Regions from separate parts of the Homo sapiens genome. Here region 1 is linked to region 2. Evidence: fine-mapped expression QTL. Tissue or cell type: whole blood. Region 2 holds a variant in brackets; the other region holds the start of a gene. All regions are shown on one strand. Distances are from middle to middle.

Region 1 (8,081 bases), 38 kb after region 2:
GTGGTGCACACCTGTGGTTTCAGCTACTCAGGAGGCTGAGGTTGGAGGATCACTTGAGCCCAGGAGTTCAAGGTTGCAGTGAGCCATGATTGTGCCACTGCACTCCAGCCTGGGTGACAGAGTGAGCTGTCTCTAAAAGAAAGAAAGGAATCAGAGGTGATTCCTGTTCCTAAGGGGCTCACAGTCTGGCTCCAACTCTTTTTTCCTCACCCTATCCTATATAAGTTTCCACTGCCCTTCTCCATTTCCTCGGTCCCAATTCACCTTCCCATTTCCTGCCTCTCTTCTCCTGAGCCCCACCTGTAAGGGATGACCTTTTTACTGATTAAAAAAACACAAGATGTGCTCAGATTTGAGGAGAGAAGGACATTTGTAAGAAAATCTTTTGGTAGAAAGGCACTGAAGATCAGCAACTCTTGTCGGATGGAGGACTTTATGTGTGTTTATTTCAGCAAACATGTAAGGAAACTGCCTCTTTCCTTAGTCAACAAGACCAGATTCTTGAGCTGGTAATGGAAAGAGCATCTCCAAGTAGGGAGAGGTGGTTGCATCTGGAAGCCCCAACTCTCATCCTGACCCCCTGGGCATTCTCTTATTCATGAACTCTGCCACACGGATCTGGTGGGGTGTGTATCTGTGCCATCTTCCTGTTAATGATCTAGACAGGCATGATGGACCCTTCCTGAGTGGCTATTAAATGGGGATGTTTTGAGAGTAAGTCGGGTGTGTGTGTGGAGGGGGGTGAGGGTGTCTCAATGATTGGCAGGTGCCTCTGGGGCCAGAGATGCTAAGCATCCAACAATGTATGGCAGAGTCCAGTACAAAGTTCCTGTAGCCCTCCTGGTGAGAAACACTGCATGAGGCTCAGCACGACCATGAGATCAGGCTGAAACACTTAAATAGATTTCATAAAAGCTTAAAGCCAGAACATGAAAATAAATAAAATTCCAGGCATGGTGGCTCACGCCTGTAATCCCAGCACTTTGGGGGGGCCAAGGCAAGAGGACTGCTTGAGGCCAGGCGTTCAAGACAAACCTGGGCAACATAGTGAGACCCAGTCTCTACAAAAAATTTAAACATTAGCCAGGTGTGGTGGCACATGCCTGGAGGTACTTAGGAAGCTAAGGTGAGAGGATCACTTGAGCCCAGGAATTCAAGGCTGCAGTGAGCTATGATCATGCCACTGCACCCCCAACCGGGGTGACATAGTGAGACCCTGTCTCAATAAAAATAAAATAAAAACAGAGTATCATATAATGAGGCACATTAGGAGATGAAGTTTATTCTTCAGGTTGGGAGGCTCCAACCCATCCATAGCCTTAGGTTCTCTTTGTGGAGAGCACGAACCGAGCATCCACCACCCTAAACTCCAGCTTAGATCCCAGTTCCTTGTCCACTGACCTAGGTCCTACAGGGTGGAGTGCAGTGGCTCGATCTCGGCTCACTGTAATCTCAAACTCCTGGGGTCAAGCAATCCCTCCTCCTCAGCTAAGTAGCAAGGACTACAGGTGTATGCCATCACGCCCAGCTAATTTTTTTATTTTTAGCTTTTGTACAGATGGGGTCTCGCTATGTTGCCCAGGCTGGGTCCTACCTTCTACCCTCCATTTAGGTGTGATCACAGAAAATGTCTCTCCCTGTGAGGAAAATTTGCCCTCTCCTCCCCAGCTACAAGACAGGGTTGTGGCCTAGCTTTGCTGCACCAAAAGAACACATGAATGTATTACAGAGTAGAATATGGCACTTAGGGATTCCTTGAAGGGCAGAAGCAGGACCAGAGCGGGGTCACACAGCACCTCTGCAGTAAATCTGGCAAGGCTTGGCAGGCCAGTCCTCACAGTGTTTCTAGGGACACTGGAACCCCGAGAGTCCCCCAGAGGCCCCATTCCTAGCAACTGGCAACCAAAGCCCATTATTCCTGCATGAACCCCTCCTGACCACACTGGCAGGGGCAACATGGTGGCCAACCTGGGGGAGCTGGCCAAGCTTCGAGACCTGCCCAAGCTGCGAGCGTTGGTGCTGCTTGATAACCCATGCACGGACGAAACCAGCTACCGCCAGGAGGCCCTGGTGCAGATGCCATACCTTGAACGCCTGGACAAGGAATTCTATGAGGAGGAGGAACGGGCTGAGGCTGATGTGATTCGACAGAGGCTGAAGGAAGAAAAGGAGCAGGAGCCTGAGCCCCAGCGTGACCTGGAACCCGAACAGTCATTGATCTAGCAGCAGTTCTAGCCTCTAAAGATAGTAAGGAAGCCTGCAGGGAGGCAGTGGGAGGAGGCCAAGGGCTGGGCAGGTAGGGGAAGAGGCAAGAGGGGAAGCTGCTGCAGAAGGAGGTGGGAGAGGAAAGCATCAGACAAGCAGGACCCTTAAAGAGAGGAGGGTTAGGAGTCAGGGAGAGGAAAAGGGACCCAAGGGGCCTGGGACCAGCTGAGAAAGACTTAGGAGGCCAGAAGAGTAAGTGAAAAGAATTGGGGTGGCAGGCAGAGGAGTTGGTGGGGGGTGGGGCAGCCATACCTGACACAGAGTGAAGTCGGCTAGGAAAGGACAGGTGTGGGTGCATGGTAGGGGCTGCAGGGGAAAGTTGGTGGTGTATGCAGCTGGACCTAGGAGAGAAGCAGGAGAGGAAGATCCAGCACAAAAAATCTGAAGCTAAAAACAGGACACAGAGATGGGGGAAGAAAAGAGGGCAGAGTGAGGCAAAAAGAGACTGAAGAGATGAGGGTGGCCGCCAGGCACTTTAGATAGGGGAGAGGCTTTATTTACCTCTGTTTGTTTTTTTTTTTTTTTTTTTTTTTTTTTTGCGAGGTAGTCTTGCTTAGTCTCCAGGCTGGAGTGCAGTGGCACAATCTCAGCTCACTGCAACTTCCACCTCCTGGGTTCAAGCAATTCTCCTGCCTCAGCCTCCCGAGTAGCTGGGACTACAGGCGCATGCAACCGCGCCTGGCTAATTTTTGTATTTTTAGTAGAAACGGGGTTTCACCACGTTAGCCAGGATGGTCTGGATCTCCTGACCTCGTGATCTGCCCGCCTCCGCCTTCCAAAGTGCTGGGATTACAGGGGTGAGCCACAGCGCCTGGTCCCTATTTACTTCTGTCTTCTACCTCCAGGAGATCAAAGACGCTGGCCTTCAGACCTGATCAGACTCCCAGGGGCAGCCACCACATGTATGACAGAGAACAGAGGATGCCTGTTTTTGCCCCAAAGCTGGAAATTCATCACAACCTGAGGCCCAGGATCTGCTCTGTGCCGGTCCTCTGGGCAGTGTGGGGTGCAGAATGGGGTGCCTAGGCCTGAGCGTTGCCTGGAGCCTAGGCCGGGGGCCGCCCTCGGGCAGGCGTGGGTGAGAGCCAAGACCGCGTGGGCCGCGGGGTGCTGGTAGGAGTGGTTGGAGAGACTTGCGAAGGCGGCTGGGGTGTTCGGATTTCCAATAAAGAAACAGAGTGATGCTCCTGTGTCTGACCGGGTTTGTGAGACATTGAGGCTGTCTTGGGCTTCACTGGCAGTGTGGGCCTTCGTACCCGGGCTACAGGGGTGCGGCTCTGCCTGTTACTGTCGAGTGGGTCGGGCCGTGGGTATGAGCGCTTGTGTGCGCTGGGGCCAGGTCGTGGGTGCCCCCACCCTTCCCCCATCCTCCTCCCTTCCCCACTCCACCCTCGTCGGTCCCCCACCCGCGCTCGTACGTGCGCCTCCGCCGGCAGCTCCTGACTCATCGGGGGCTCCGGGTCACATGCGCCCGCGCGGCCCTATAGGCGCCTCCTCCGCCCGCCGCCCGGGAGCCGCAGCCGCCGCCGCCACTGCCACTCCCGCTCTCTCAGCGCCGCCGTCGCCACCGCCACCGCCACCGCCACTACCACCGTCTGAGTCTGCAGTCCCGAGGTGAAGCCCCCGCCAGGCCCAGAGCCCCTGTGGCCCCCTCCCTTCGCCGCGGCGCCCCTGCCTCCTTTACCCGGTGCCGCTGCGCACCTCTCCGCATCTCTGGCCCGGTGCAGCTGCGCACCTGCTCCGCCGCCCGCGCCCAGGGCGCCTTCCCTCCCTGGCCTTCCCCGCCCGCTGCCTTCGCTTTCTGGCCCTCTGCGCGCCTATCTCTAACTGCGCCTCTCCACCCTTGCCTGCCTCTCTCCCGGTGCTCGCCCTCATCTACGGTTCTATTTGTTTCTAAGTTGGGAGCCTCTCCGGGCGGTGCATTTTTATCCTAGAGCGTCCCTTTTGGTTTGCATTTGGGGAAATGTCTTCTCTCACCGTTCCTCACCTCCCCCAGACTTCCCTTGGACTCCCCTCTCTCCTGCTCTTCCCCACGGCGCCCCTCTCCGTTCGCGCTTCCTCCCCTCTGCTGCACGGGGGAGAGATGGAAGAAGTGGGGATCTGTCGAGGCGCAGAGGGGAGGACAGGCCCAGCTCGCCTCCACTCCCCACCGGCTCTTATCCTCTTCACTTCCCGCTGCAACCCCCAGGGACTGCAGGGCCTTTCTCAGGACCCTCTTCCCCGACACCTGTATTGCATGCGCCTTTCGCGGGAAGAGGAGGGATACACGTTTGGGAGAGAGTGGGACCTTGGGGAAGGGGCAGTGTTCAGGCAGCTGGGGTGTTAAGTTGGGGAGGTATGGGGGCTCTGGAAGAGAGGCCCAGGCAGCCCATCCTCTTCTTGGCTCCCAGGAGAAATGCAAGCCTGGCAGCCATTCCGCTCTGAGGAGATCTGGGGGAACCCCACCGGCTGGCCAAGCTGCAAAGAGGCGCGGGAACCACTGTCGTGCCCCTCCCCTCCTCACTGCAGTGTTCTCCCATCTCATCATTTGATCTTACCCCGCCCCCCACTGCAGTGACCTCCCCTTCCTCACTGCATTGACCTTCTCCTCTTCCCAGGGGGGAGGGGGAATCCCTTCTACAGCCCTAGACTGCAGCCAGCGCCTCCCTACCCACCCCCCACCCACTGCAGTAACCTCTTTCCCATCCCTCCCAGCCTCCCGCCCCGCCCATTGATCTCAGGCTCCACCCCTCTAAGCCTCTTATCTTTCTCCTTCCTTCCCTTCCACCCGAGGAGATCCCAGCCATCATGTCCATAGAGAAGATCTGGGCCCGGGAGATCCTGGACTCCCGCGGGAACCCCACAGTGGAGGTGGATCTCTATACTGCCAAAGGTAATGGGTGTGGCATGGGCCTTCCTACAGCCCTAGCTTTTCCACGGCCAGGCTGGGTTCGGCCAGGGGTTCGGAGGCCTTTTTTGATACCCAGGGGTATGGGGTGCTGGGCCAGGCTCACAAGCCTGGGTTGTGGCGGTTGGATCCTCCTTGTCCGGGGAGCCAGGGTAGGTGGGTCTGTGTTCGAGTTTAGCGTGTGAGGCATGTCCTGCCTCCGTGTGTCTGCCTGTGCACTTGCATGTGTGCAGACGTGTGCTGCAAGCAATTTTCTTTCTGCGGGCTCCCACTTGTGCATGTGGGGCCTCAGATGGGTGGATGAGGAGGCCACTTCTTGTGCATCTGCCTCAGTGTGTGTGTGGGGTGGGGGTGGGGGGATGTTAGGGAGCAGTGTGGGGAGAGAGCTAGATGTGGTAGGCAGGCAGTTTAGAGCCAGAAGGCTGAAGGACTCCCTGGCCCCTGTGTCCTCTTCACTCCCTCTCATTCCATGTTCCTCCTTTAGGTCTTTTCCGGGCTGCAGTGCCCAGTGGAGCCTCTACGGGCATCTATGAGGCCCTGGAGCTGAGGGATGGAGACAAACAGCGTTACTTAGGCAAAGGTGAGGTCCCTTCTCTTTTCCAGACTCTCCCCCACCTCAGCCTTATGCCCCTACCTCACACCAGTCCCCAGTCCTCCTCTAGCATGGCTTCCCCTCCTCCCATTGATCCCTTCCGGCCCCTCCTGGCCCGACCCAGTCCAGCCTCTTCCTTTCCCCAGGTGTCCTGAAGGCAGTGGACCACATCAACTCCACCATCGCGCCAGCCCTCATCAGCTCAGTGAGGCCTGCTCTTTGCTGGGGATAGCAGGGCCAGAGTTCTGGAAGGAATCCCGGAGCAGGGCAGGAGGAAGGGAAGAAAGAAGGCCCACTCTTAGGAATCATGGTTACAAGGGGGAAGGGTGGGGAACAGCTTCCTTAATGCACCCTGCTCCCATGGGAGTTCAGGTCCCCTAATCCAGGTAGGCCCCTGTCACAGGGACCTGGTTGGACCCTGGCCAAATGTGAGCTTGGGTGTGAATGAGGGGACCCTCTGCCTTAGGGCTCAGCCTCCAGCCTGGCCCTGGGTGATGGAGGCTCTGCCCTCAGGGTCTCTCTGTGGTGGAGCAAGAGAAACTGGACAACCTGATGCTGGAGTTGGATGGGACTGAGAACAAATGTGAGCCGGGGCCGGGAGAAAGTGGGGAAGCGTCAGGGTGGGGAGGCGTGGAGCAGATAGAGAGCTGAAGGGCCAGTGCTGTAGTGGCTTCCTCAGGAATGACTGTCAGGGGCATTCTCCTCTCAAAGCCAGAGCAAGGGGAGATGAGTTTAGCTGCAGAGGGAAGGACCGACAGTAGGCAGAAGGAAGACCTTCTTTGCAGCATACAGAGGAGGGGGATGGCCTGAGAGAGTCTGTGGTCTCAGGGATATTTAGAAAGAGGTGTGGCTCTCTGCCGTTTCCAATCTCCTCCTCCCCACCCATTCCTCTCCCTGCTGTTTTCAAGAGAGCATGGATGAGGTGTTGCTGGGGCAGGGGTGGGGAGGGAGGAGGGGGTCTCCTTTACTGGCTCCTTTTGGAGACTACAGATGGAGGCAGGAGCTAGAAAGGAGAAGGGGACATTGTGCTCAGCACCTTCCTCTATAATCTCCTAGCCAAGTTTGGGGCCAATGCCATCCTGGGTGTGTCTCTGGCCGTGTGTAAGGCAGGGGCAGCTGAGCGGGAACTGCCCCTGTATCGCCACATTGCTCAGCTGGCCGGGAACTCAGACCTCATCCTGCCTGTGCCGGTGAGCAATAAGCCAGCCTGCGGCTCTCCCAGGGGCGGGTGGGGGAGGGAGCATGCAACTCATGAGGAATGATGGGAGGAAAGTGAATTGAGGGAGGTAAAGAGGAAGGATGGGGACGTGAGACTTAGTCCGGAAAGCTGGGGGAAGTTTGGGATCTTGGGTTAACACTCCTGGGGCGGGCAGGGAGGGGCTCTTTGACCCTTCTGTCTTTCTGTGGCTCCCCAGGCCTTCAACGTGATCAATGGTGGCTCTCATGCTGGCAACAAGCTGGCCATGCAGGAGTTCATGATCCTCCCAGTGGGAGCTGAGAGCTTTCGGGATGCCATGCGACTAGGTGCAGAGGTCTACCATACACTCAAGGGAGTCATCAAGGACAAATACGGCAAGGATGCCACCAATGTGGGGGATGAAGGTGGCTTTGCCCCCAATATCCTGGAGAACAGTGAAGGTGAGGCCAGGAGCCCCACTCCCAGCTCTAAGTCTTACCCTATTGTGGGACATCAGAAAGGGTGACACAGTTCACCAAGTCCTGAGTAGGCGTGGAGGGTCCTAGGACTCTGCAAACTCCAAAAGGTACCAGTTCTTAGAGTGGATTGCAGAGAGCCTGCCAAATTCACATGCAGACCTAGGGGGACAGTATTTTTTTTTTTTTTTGAGACGGAGTCTTGCTCTGTCACCCAGGCTGGAGTGCAGTGGCTCGATCTCAGCTCACTGCAAGCTCCGCCTCCCGGGTTCACGCCATTCTCCTGCCTCAGCCTCCCGAGTAGCTGGGACTACAGGCGCCCGCCACCACGCCCGGCTAATTTTTTGTATTTTTTAGTAGAGACAGGGTTTCACTGTGGTCTCGAACTCCTGACCTTGTGATCGGCCCGCCTCGGCCTCCCAAAGTGCTGGGATTACAAGCGTGAGCCACCACGCCTGGCCAGGGGACAGTCTTTTACCTGCCTAGCCAGATGTGTTAGCATCTGTTAAGTTGCCACTGGAAGGCCGGGCGCGGTGGCTCACACCTGTAATCCCAGCACTTTGGGAGGCTGAGGCGGGTGGATCACCTGAGGTCAGGAGTTTGAGACCAGCCTGGCCAACAAGGTGAAACCCCGTCTCTACTAAAAATACAAAAATTAGCCGGGCATGGTGGCGTGTGCCTGTA
Region 2 (8,090 bases):
TGCTGCTGCTGCCCCCTGCCAGAGCTGTCTGGCCCATGGAGGTGAGGAGCTAGAGGACTCCCCGAAAGAGGCTTGCTGGGGCGTCTTTCTCTTCTGAAAGTTGAGCTCCAGTTTGGATTGACCTGGAAGGGAGCTGGGAGAAAAGGGGCGTGAAGAGCAGAATCCTGGCGGGGGCTCGTCACCCAGGTACCCCATCCTTTCACCCAAGTTTGCCAACGGGCCCGCTCCTCCCTCCTCGCTGCCCCAAAGCTCCTGGGCCCTTCATCTGCCCTCGCCCCATCTGATCCAGGTCGCCAGAGACTCTCGCGAGTTCGCCCCATTTGGGCCTCAGCATGGACCATCCCCCTTACTCGCCCGGAGCCCTCGCCGCTGCCCCCGAACCTCGGTTGACTTCCCAGCCCTGGAGGTCGCCGGGCCTCTGAAGGAGCCGGGCGGAAAGAAGCCGAGGCGCGCAGGGCGCAGACCGCCGGCCGCTTCCGCCCCCAGCTCCTCCCTTGGGCCGAGCCCGTCCCGCGGCCCCGCCCCTCCAGGGCCCTCTGGGGCTTAACCCTCTCATCGCCGCCCACGGCCGTGCAGCTCCGAGGCCACGCCCCTGTGGGGCCCCGCCCCCTCCTGGGCAGTTACCGCTCTATACCGGCAGCAGCCGCGGAGAGCATGCCCCGCCCCCGTGGAGCCCACCCCGGGCGGTTAACCTCGGGTCTCAGTCCCGGGCTGTGACCCTCCCCGAGGCCCCGCCCCCACGGCGAAGGCCCGGGGCAGTTAACCCTTCTCTTGCTGCGGCAGAGTCCGCACCCGGGCAGGCCCATCTCAGAATTAACGCTTTGATGGCATCACCGCGTCGGGAATCCCTGGGGATGGTGTTCTCCACCGTCAAGACCTTTGAGCCGCCTGAGCGACTAACTCCTGCGCCCCTGAGGGTAAGGAGCATGGGGTCAAGGAGGGGCTTCATTGTGCCGAATCCCATTTCTACTTCCCTGTGATTCTGGGTCACTGTTTCTGGGCTGGTCCCTTTCTGCCCCGGGTTGTGAGTCAGCCTGTGCCACCTCTGAGGCTGTGAAATCTGCTTCAGGCTCTAGGCTGTACGCATCATAGTTCTCCCTGCTGGTCCAGTCTTCATACTGGATGCCAATCCATTACTGAGCCGTTGATCTCATTTGGTAGAGTGTCCTGATTAAGACTTCGAGTTTGAGTGAAGCTATGCCACTAGTTAACTGCGCGATCTTGGGGAAGTTGCCCGATTTCTCTTTTTTTTTTTTTTGAGACAGGGTCTTGCTGTCACCAAGGCTAGAGTGCAGTGGCGCCATCACAGCCCACTGCAGCCTTGACCTCCTGGGCTCAAGTGATCCTCCTACCTCAGCCTCCCAAGTAGCTGGGACTACAGGCATGTGCTACCACACCCAGCTAATTTTTAAAAAAATATTTTTATTTTTATTTTTATTTTTTTCGAGACAGAGTCTTGCTCTTGTTGCCCAGGCTGGAGTGCAGCGGCACGATCTCGGCTCTCTGTAACCTCCATCTCCCAGGTTCAGGGGATTCTCCTGCCTCAGCCTCCTGAGTAGCTGGGATTACAGGCACCTGCCACCACGCCTAGCTATTTTTTGTATTTTTAGTAGACACAGGGTTTTGCCATGTTGGCCAGGCTGGTCTAGAACTCCTGACCTTGTGATCTGCCTGCCTTAGCCTCCCAAAGTGCTGAGATTACAGGTGTGAGCCACCACGTCCGGCCAAAAAAAAATTTTTTTTAGAGACAGGGTCTCCCAAAGTGCTGGGATTTCAGGCATGAGCCACTACGCCCAGCCCCAGATTTCTGTAGTTTTCTGTTATGTAAAATAGGAGCAATGATGGTAGTTACCTCACAGGGTTGTTGTGCAGTTGAAATAATCCAGGTAAAGCATGTAGCACAGAGCTGGGTACATAGTAGTCACTCACCAAGCATAGCTGTCAATGTGCTTAATGAGTGCCGACACTATAAGGAGGCAATATAATATAATGGCAAACATGCCAGCTGTGGGACCAGACTCCCCGGGCATGAATACCTGAAGGCCAGTGTGTGTATGACCTTGGGCAAATTACTGAACCTCCCTGTGCCTGTTTCTTCCTCTGTAAGACAGAGATCACATTAGTATCTATTGCATGGGGTTGGTAGTGAGAATCCAATGAGGTTATAGATGTAACACATTTGGAAGAGTTTCTGGTTCGCATTTAATGATTTGTGCTAAGCACTGGAGATTAAGCAGTGAATCCTTAAGGAGGTTACAAAGACTTTTATAAAATAATGTATCATGTAGTAATAGTAAATAAAATTATGGAGATATAAAGAAAGTACTATAGGAGTAAAAAGAATAGGACTCCTATCCGGGGTTCAAGCAGTTAGGAAAGGAGCATCTCCAAAAGAGGTTCACACCTGGGCTGAATCTTTTCATGTCCTAGAAGAGGTTCACACCTTCACACTGGGCTGAATCTTTCTCTTTTTTTTTTTGAGACGGAGTCTAAGCTCTGATGCCTAGGCTGGAGTGCAGTGGCGTGATCTCAGCTCACCTCTGCCTCCTGGGGTCAAGTGATTCTCCTGCCTCAGCCTCCCAAGTAGCTGGGACTACAAGCGTGCACCACCATGCCTGGCTAATTTTTGTATTTTTAGTAGAGACAGGGTTTCACTATGTTGCCCAGGCTGGCCTCGAACTCCTGACCTCGTGATCTGCCCGCCTCGGCCTCCCAAAGTGCTGGGGTTACCGGCATGAGCCACCGCGCCCAGCCTGGGCTGAATCTAAAAGGATGACCAGGAATTGGCCTGAGACGAGCCACTTCTCTGCAGTATGGAGGTTGGGTTACGGTTGCTGCATGTAGAAGATATTCCAGACAGAAGAGTCCGCATGAAAAAAAGCAAGAAGCAGCAGGTGGGTTTGGGGAAGTACGATATCTTCAAGGTTGCTACAGCCAGAAAGGAAGCATGAGAAGGGCCAGATAAGTAGACAGCAAGTCACAGAGGCCTTCTAGGCTGAGTTAAGGAATGCAAATGTTTTCCCATAGGACAGGCCAGTGATGGGGAGCCACTGTAGGATAGAAGAAGAGAGGAACATGGTCAGATAGGCATTTGATTTATTTATATATTTTGAGCCAGGGTCTCACTTTGTCACCCAGGCTGGAGTGGAGTAGCGTGATCACGACTCATGGCAGCCACAACCTCCTGAGCTCCGCTGATCCTCCTACCTCAGCCTCCTGAGTAGCTGGGACTACAGGTGCATACCGCCATGCCGAGCTAATTTATTTTTATTTTTTTAATTTACAAATTATTATTTCTTAATTTTTAAAATAGAGACAGAGTCTCAGTCTGTTGCCCAGGCTGGTCTCGAACTCCTGAGTCAAGCGATCCTCCTGCCTCAGCATCCCAAAGTACTGGGATTACAGGCGTGAGCCACTGTGCCTGGCCAGATCTGCATTTTAGAAAAACCACCCTGGCAGCAACATAGAGGAGCTTCAAGGGAAATAGAACTGGAAGTTGGCTGGGCGCGATGGCTCACACCTGTAATCCCAGCACTTTGGAAGGCTGAGATGGGCGAATCACCTGAGGTTTGGAGTTCGAGACCAGCCTGGCCAACATGGAGAAACCCTGTCTCTACTAAAAATACAAAATTAGCCGGGCATGGTGGAGCATGCCTGTAATCCCAGCTACTCAGGAGGTTGAGGCAGGAGAATTGCTTGAACCTGGGAGGTGGAGGTTGCGGTGAGCCGAGATCACGCCATTGCACTCCAGCCTGGGCAACAAGAGTGAAACTCTGTCTCAAAAAAAAAAAAAAAAAAGGACTGGAAGCAAAGACACCATTTCCAGCAGCCCAGGTGACAAGTGTCAACAGCCTGAAATAGGACAGTAGAAATAAGGATGAAAATAATTCAAGAAACACTGATGAAACGGCAAGATTTGGTGACTGATTAGATATGGAGTTGAGGCTGGGCACAGTGGCTCACGCCTGTAATCCCAGCACTTTGGGAGGCCGAGGCAGGCGGATCACCTGAGGTTGGGAGTTTGAGACCAGCCTGGCCAACATGGTGAAACCCTGTCTCTACTAAAAATACAAAAATTAGCTGTGTGTGGTGGTGGGCACCTGTAATCCCAGCTACTTCGGAGGGTGAAGCAGGAGAATTGCTTGAACCAGGGAGGTGGAGGCTGCAGTGAGCCGAGATGGCGCTACCGCACTCCAGCCTGGGCGACAGAGCAAGACTCCATCTCAAAAAAAAAAAAAAAAAAAAAAGAGAAAGGGAAGTTTCTAGCCTGGAAAAATTGATTGGAAGGTGGTGCCACCAATCAAGATGGAGATGACAGAAAGAGGAGTAATTGAGGGCAGGGGCAGGAGGGTGGGAGAGGGAGATGGTGAGTTCAGTTTAGGATATGTTTTTGAGGTGTCTGAGCCACAAGCAAATGGAACCATCCAGAACACACAAGAAAATGGCAGGTCTGGAGGCAGAATGAGAGGCCTGGGCTGGAGACAGGGATTTGGGAGGTGTGTCAGTCTTTAGTCAGGAGTTGAACTATGAGAATGAGTGAGTGAAATATGGGCGATGGGGACAAAGAGAGTGTGGAGCAACAGAAGGGTCAAGGAGAATAGAACAAGGTAGAAAATTCAGTTTTGATTACTTACAAGATTGTTTTGGTCAGAGGTCACTGGCAACCTTGGTGAGAGACAGCACATGTGGGGACTGGTAGGTGGAACTCCAGGCTGAAGGGGCTGGACTGTCACAAGCTTTACATTTTGAAGGAATAGAAAATGAGGAGAAGTAAATTACAATTATGTCACATAGTTAAAGTTACCCTTGGAAATCCCTTAGTAGGCTGGGTGCAGTGGCTCATTCCTGTAATCCCACCACTTTGAGAGGCTGAAGCAGGAGCTTGAGCCCAGGAGTTTGAGACCAGCCTGGAAGACTAGTGAGACCCCATCTCTACCAAATAATAATAATAAAATAGGCCGGACGCGGTGGCTGACGCCTGTAATCCCAGCACTTTGGGAGG[C/T]CGAGGCGTGTGGATCACCTGAGGTCAGGAGTTCAAGACCAGCCTGGCCAACATGGTGAAATCCCGTCTCTACTAAATATACAAAAAAAAAAAAATTAGCCAGGCGTGGTGGTGTGCACCTGTAATCCCTCAGCAGGAGAATTGTTTGAACCCAGGAGGCGGAGGTTGCAGTGAGTCAGGATGGCGCCACTGCACTCCAACATGGGCGACAGAGTGATACTCCATCTCAGAAAACAAAACAAAAAAATAAAATAGGCTGGGCATGGTGGCTCATGCCTGTAATCTCAGCACTTTGGGAGGCCGAGGCAGGTGGATCACTTGAGGTCAGGAGTTCGAGACCAGCCTGGCCAACATGGTGAAACCCCGTCTCTACTAAAAATACAAAAATTAGCTGGGCGTGGTGGCATGTGCCTATAATCCCAGCTACGCAGGAGGCTGAGGAAGGAGAATCGTGCCTGTAATCCCAGCTACTCAGGAGGCTGAGGCAGAAGAACCCGCAAGGCAGAGGTTGCAGTGAGCCAAGATCCTGCCACTGCACTCCAGCCTGGCGACAGAGCAAGACTCCGTCTCAAAAAATAAAGTAAAATAAAATAAAAATAATTGAGGACCACAAGAACTAGGAAAAAAAGAAAAAAGAAAAAAGAAAGGCCGAGGCAGGCAGATCACCTGAGGTCGGGAGTTTGAGGCCAGCCTGACCAACATGGAGAAACCTCGTCTCTACTAAAAATACAAAAATCAGCTAGGCATGGTGGCACATGCCTGTAATCCCAGCTACTCGGGAGGCTGAGGCAGGAGAATCGCTTGAACCTGGGAGGCAGAGGTTGTGGTGAGCTGAGATTGAGCCATTGCACTCCAGCCTGGACAACAAGAGCGAAACTCCATCTCAAAAAAAAAAAAAAAAAGAAAAAGAAAATCCCTCAGTTACTGCATCTGTTAGGTGAGCATATATTCGTTTGTGTAAAAATCACTATGTGGCTGTATATATATATATATATATATATATATATATATATATATATATATATATATATATAAAATGATGTACAAAATATTTTATAATGTTTTAAAGAGGAAGAAGAAAGCAGCACACTAAGAAGTAACTCAGGAATGGAAAACCAAACATCATATGTTCTCATAAGTGGGAGCTAAGCCATGAGAATGCAGAGGCATAAGAATGACACAATGGACCTTGGGTACTCAGGGGGAAAGGGTGGGAAGAGGTGGAGGGATAAAAGACTATAAATAGCGTTCAGTGTATACTGCTTGGGTGATGGGTGCACCAAAATCTCACAAATCACCACGAAAGAACTTACTCATATAACCAAACACCACCTGTTCCCCAATAACCTATGAAAATAAAATAATAATAAAAAGAAGAAGAAAGCATACTAAAATAAAGATATGAACCTGAAACTTGTCATCCACCCAACCTGGATATGCTTGCCAGTATGTGACATCAATAATAACATCATGACTGTAAGACCAGGCACAGTGGCTCACACCTGTAATCCCAGCACTTTGGGAGGCCAAGGTGGGCCGATTTGAGATCAGAAGTTGAAGACCAGCCTGGGCAGCATGATGAAACCCCGCCTCTACAAAAAATACAAAAAATTAGCCAGGCTTTGGTGGCTTGCGCCTGCCATCCCAGCTACTCAAGAGGCTGAGGCAAGAGAATCCCTTGAGTCTAGAATTGGAGGTTGCGGTGAGCCAAGATCAGGCCACTGCACTCCAGCCTGGGTGACAGAGCGAGACCCCGTCTCAAAAAATAAATAACATCATGACTGTGGGTGGCAGCCTATGATGAATAGTAGTGAAGGACCCATGTGATAACCAAGGCCTGGGGACAGAGAACAGTGCCTGCCCCATGGCTAGCTCTAGCTCAGCTTGAGAATTTAATCACGCCTGTGCTGCTGATGCTGCTGCTGCTGCTGCTACTGGTTGTTTAAAACATGGTTGTTGGCCGGGCACAGTGGCTCACGCCTGTAATCCCACCACTTTGGGAGGCTGAGGCAGGCAGATCATCTGAGATAAGGAGTTCGAGACCAGCCTGGCCTACATGGTGAAACCCCGTCTCTACTAAAAAATACATAAAAATTAGCCAGGCCTACTGGCACGTGCCTGTAGTCCCAGCTACTCAGGAAGCCGAGGCAGAAGAACCACTTGAACCCAGGAGGCGGAGGTTGCAGTGAGCCGAGATTGCGCCACTGCACTCCAGTCTGGGCGACAGAGGGAGACTTTGTCTCAAAAAAAAAAAAAAAAGGTTGTTTTAAACAATTCATCAGTTGATGCCACTGAATCTGGAGCTGGTCAAACATTTGTTGCTAAAAGGTAAAAAATTTCGTAATGCTACAAGTAATTTAAATTTTTTACTTAAAAATTAAAAAAAAAAAAAAATTGGCCGGGCATGGTGGCTCACACCTGTAATCCCAGCACTTTGGGAGGCCGAGGCGGGTGGATCACAAGGTCAAGAGATCGAGACCATCCTGGCTTTAGTAGAGACAGTGAAACCCCGTCTCTACTAAAAATACAAAAAAAATTAGCCAGGCGTGGTGGTGGGCGCCTGTAGTCCCAGCTACTCGGGAGGCTGAGGCAAGAGAATGGCGTGAACCCTGGAGGCAGAGCTTGCAGTGAGCCAAGATCACGCCACTGCACTCCAGCCTGGGTGACAGAGCGACATTCCATCTCAAAAAAAAAAAAAAAATTATAGATGAGGTCTTGCTATTTTGCCCAGGCTGGACTCAAATTCCTGGGTTCAAGTAATCCCCCCAACCTCAGCCTCCCAAGTAGCTGAGACTACAGGCATGTGCCACAATGCCTTTTTACTTATTTTATTATTTTGTTGAGACAGGGTCTCAGTGTACTCCAGGCTGGAGTGCAGTGGCACGACCATGACTCACTGCAGCCTCACCCCAGCCTCCTGAGTAGCTAGGACTACAGGCACATGCCACCAGGCCTGGCTAATATTTAACTTTTCGTAGAGACAGGGACTCTCTCTATGTTGCCCAGGTTGATCTCAAACTCCTGTACTCAAGCAATTCTCCTGCCTCGTCCTCCCAAAGTGCTGGGATTACAGGCATGAGCCACCATG

The links. PIP is the estimated chance that this variant, and not a neighbour inherited with it, causes the effect.
Region 1: ENO2 starts here. The variant in region 2 is fine-mapped to the expression of ENO2 in whole blood (TOPMed, PIP above 0.99).

What each region holds. Positions count from the first base shown.
Region 1 is chr12:6,910,781-6,918,861 of GRCh38, forward strand. ENO2 (enolase 2) reads left to right here and starts at 3,800. Exons shown (of 12, transcript NM_001975.3): 1 at 3,800-3,879; 2 at 5,041-5,137; 3 at 5,637-5,732; 4 at 5,891-5,949; 5 at 6,258-6,327; 6 at 6,801-6,934; 7 at 7,160-7,382. The coding sequence starts at 5,053. It overlaps LRRC23 (leucine rich repeat containing 23), which reads left to right. Exons shown (of 8, transcript NM_001135217.2): 7 at 1,950-2,247; 8 at 3,111-3,449. The coding sequence ends at 2,223. RefSeq lists enhancers at 3,203-3,272, 3,303-3,472, 4,151-4,792, 4,793-5,432 and silencers at 3,583-4,072, 3,604-3,794.
Region 2 is chr12:6,872,865-6,880,954 of GRCh38, forward strand. It overlaps SPSB2 (splA/ryanodine receptor domain and SOCS box containing 2), which reads right to left and starts at 439. Exons shown (of 3, transcript NM_032641.4): 1 at 382-439; 2 at 1-133. The coding sequence starts at 37. LOC105369632 (a long non-coding RNA gene) reads right to left here. Exons shown (of 4, transcript NR_135083.1): 3 at 4,635-4,736; 4 at 2,900-3,050. RefSeq lists an enhancer at 1-8 and a silencer at 399-848. The variant C/T (reference allele first, on the strand shown) is at 5,003.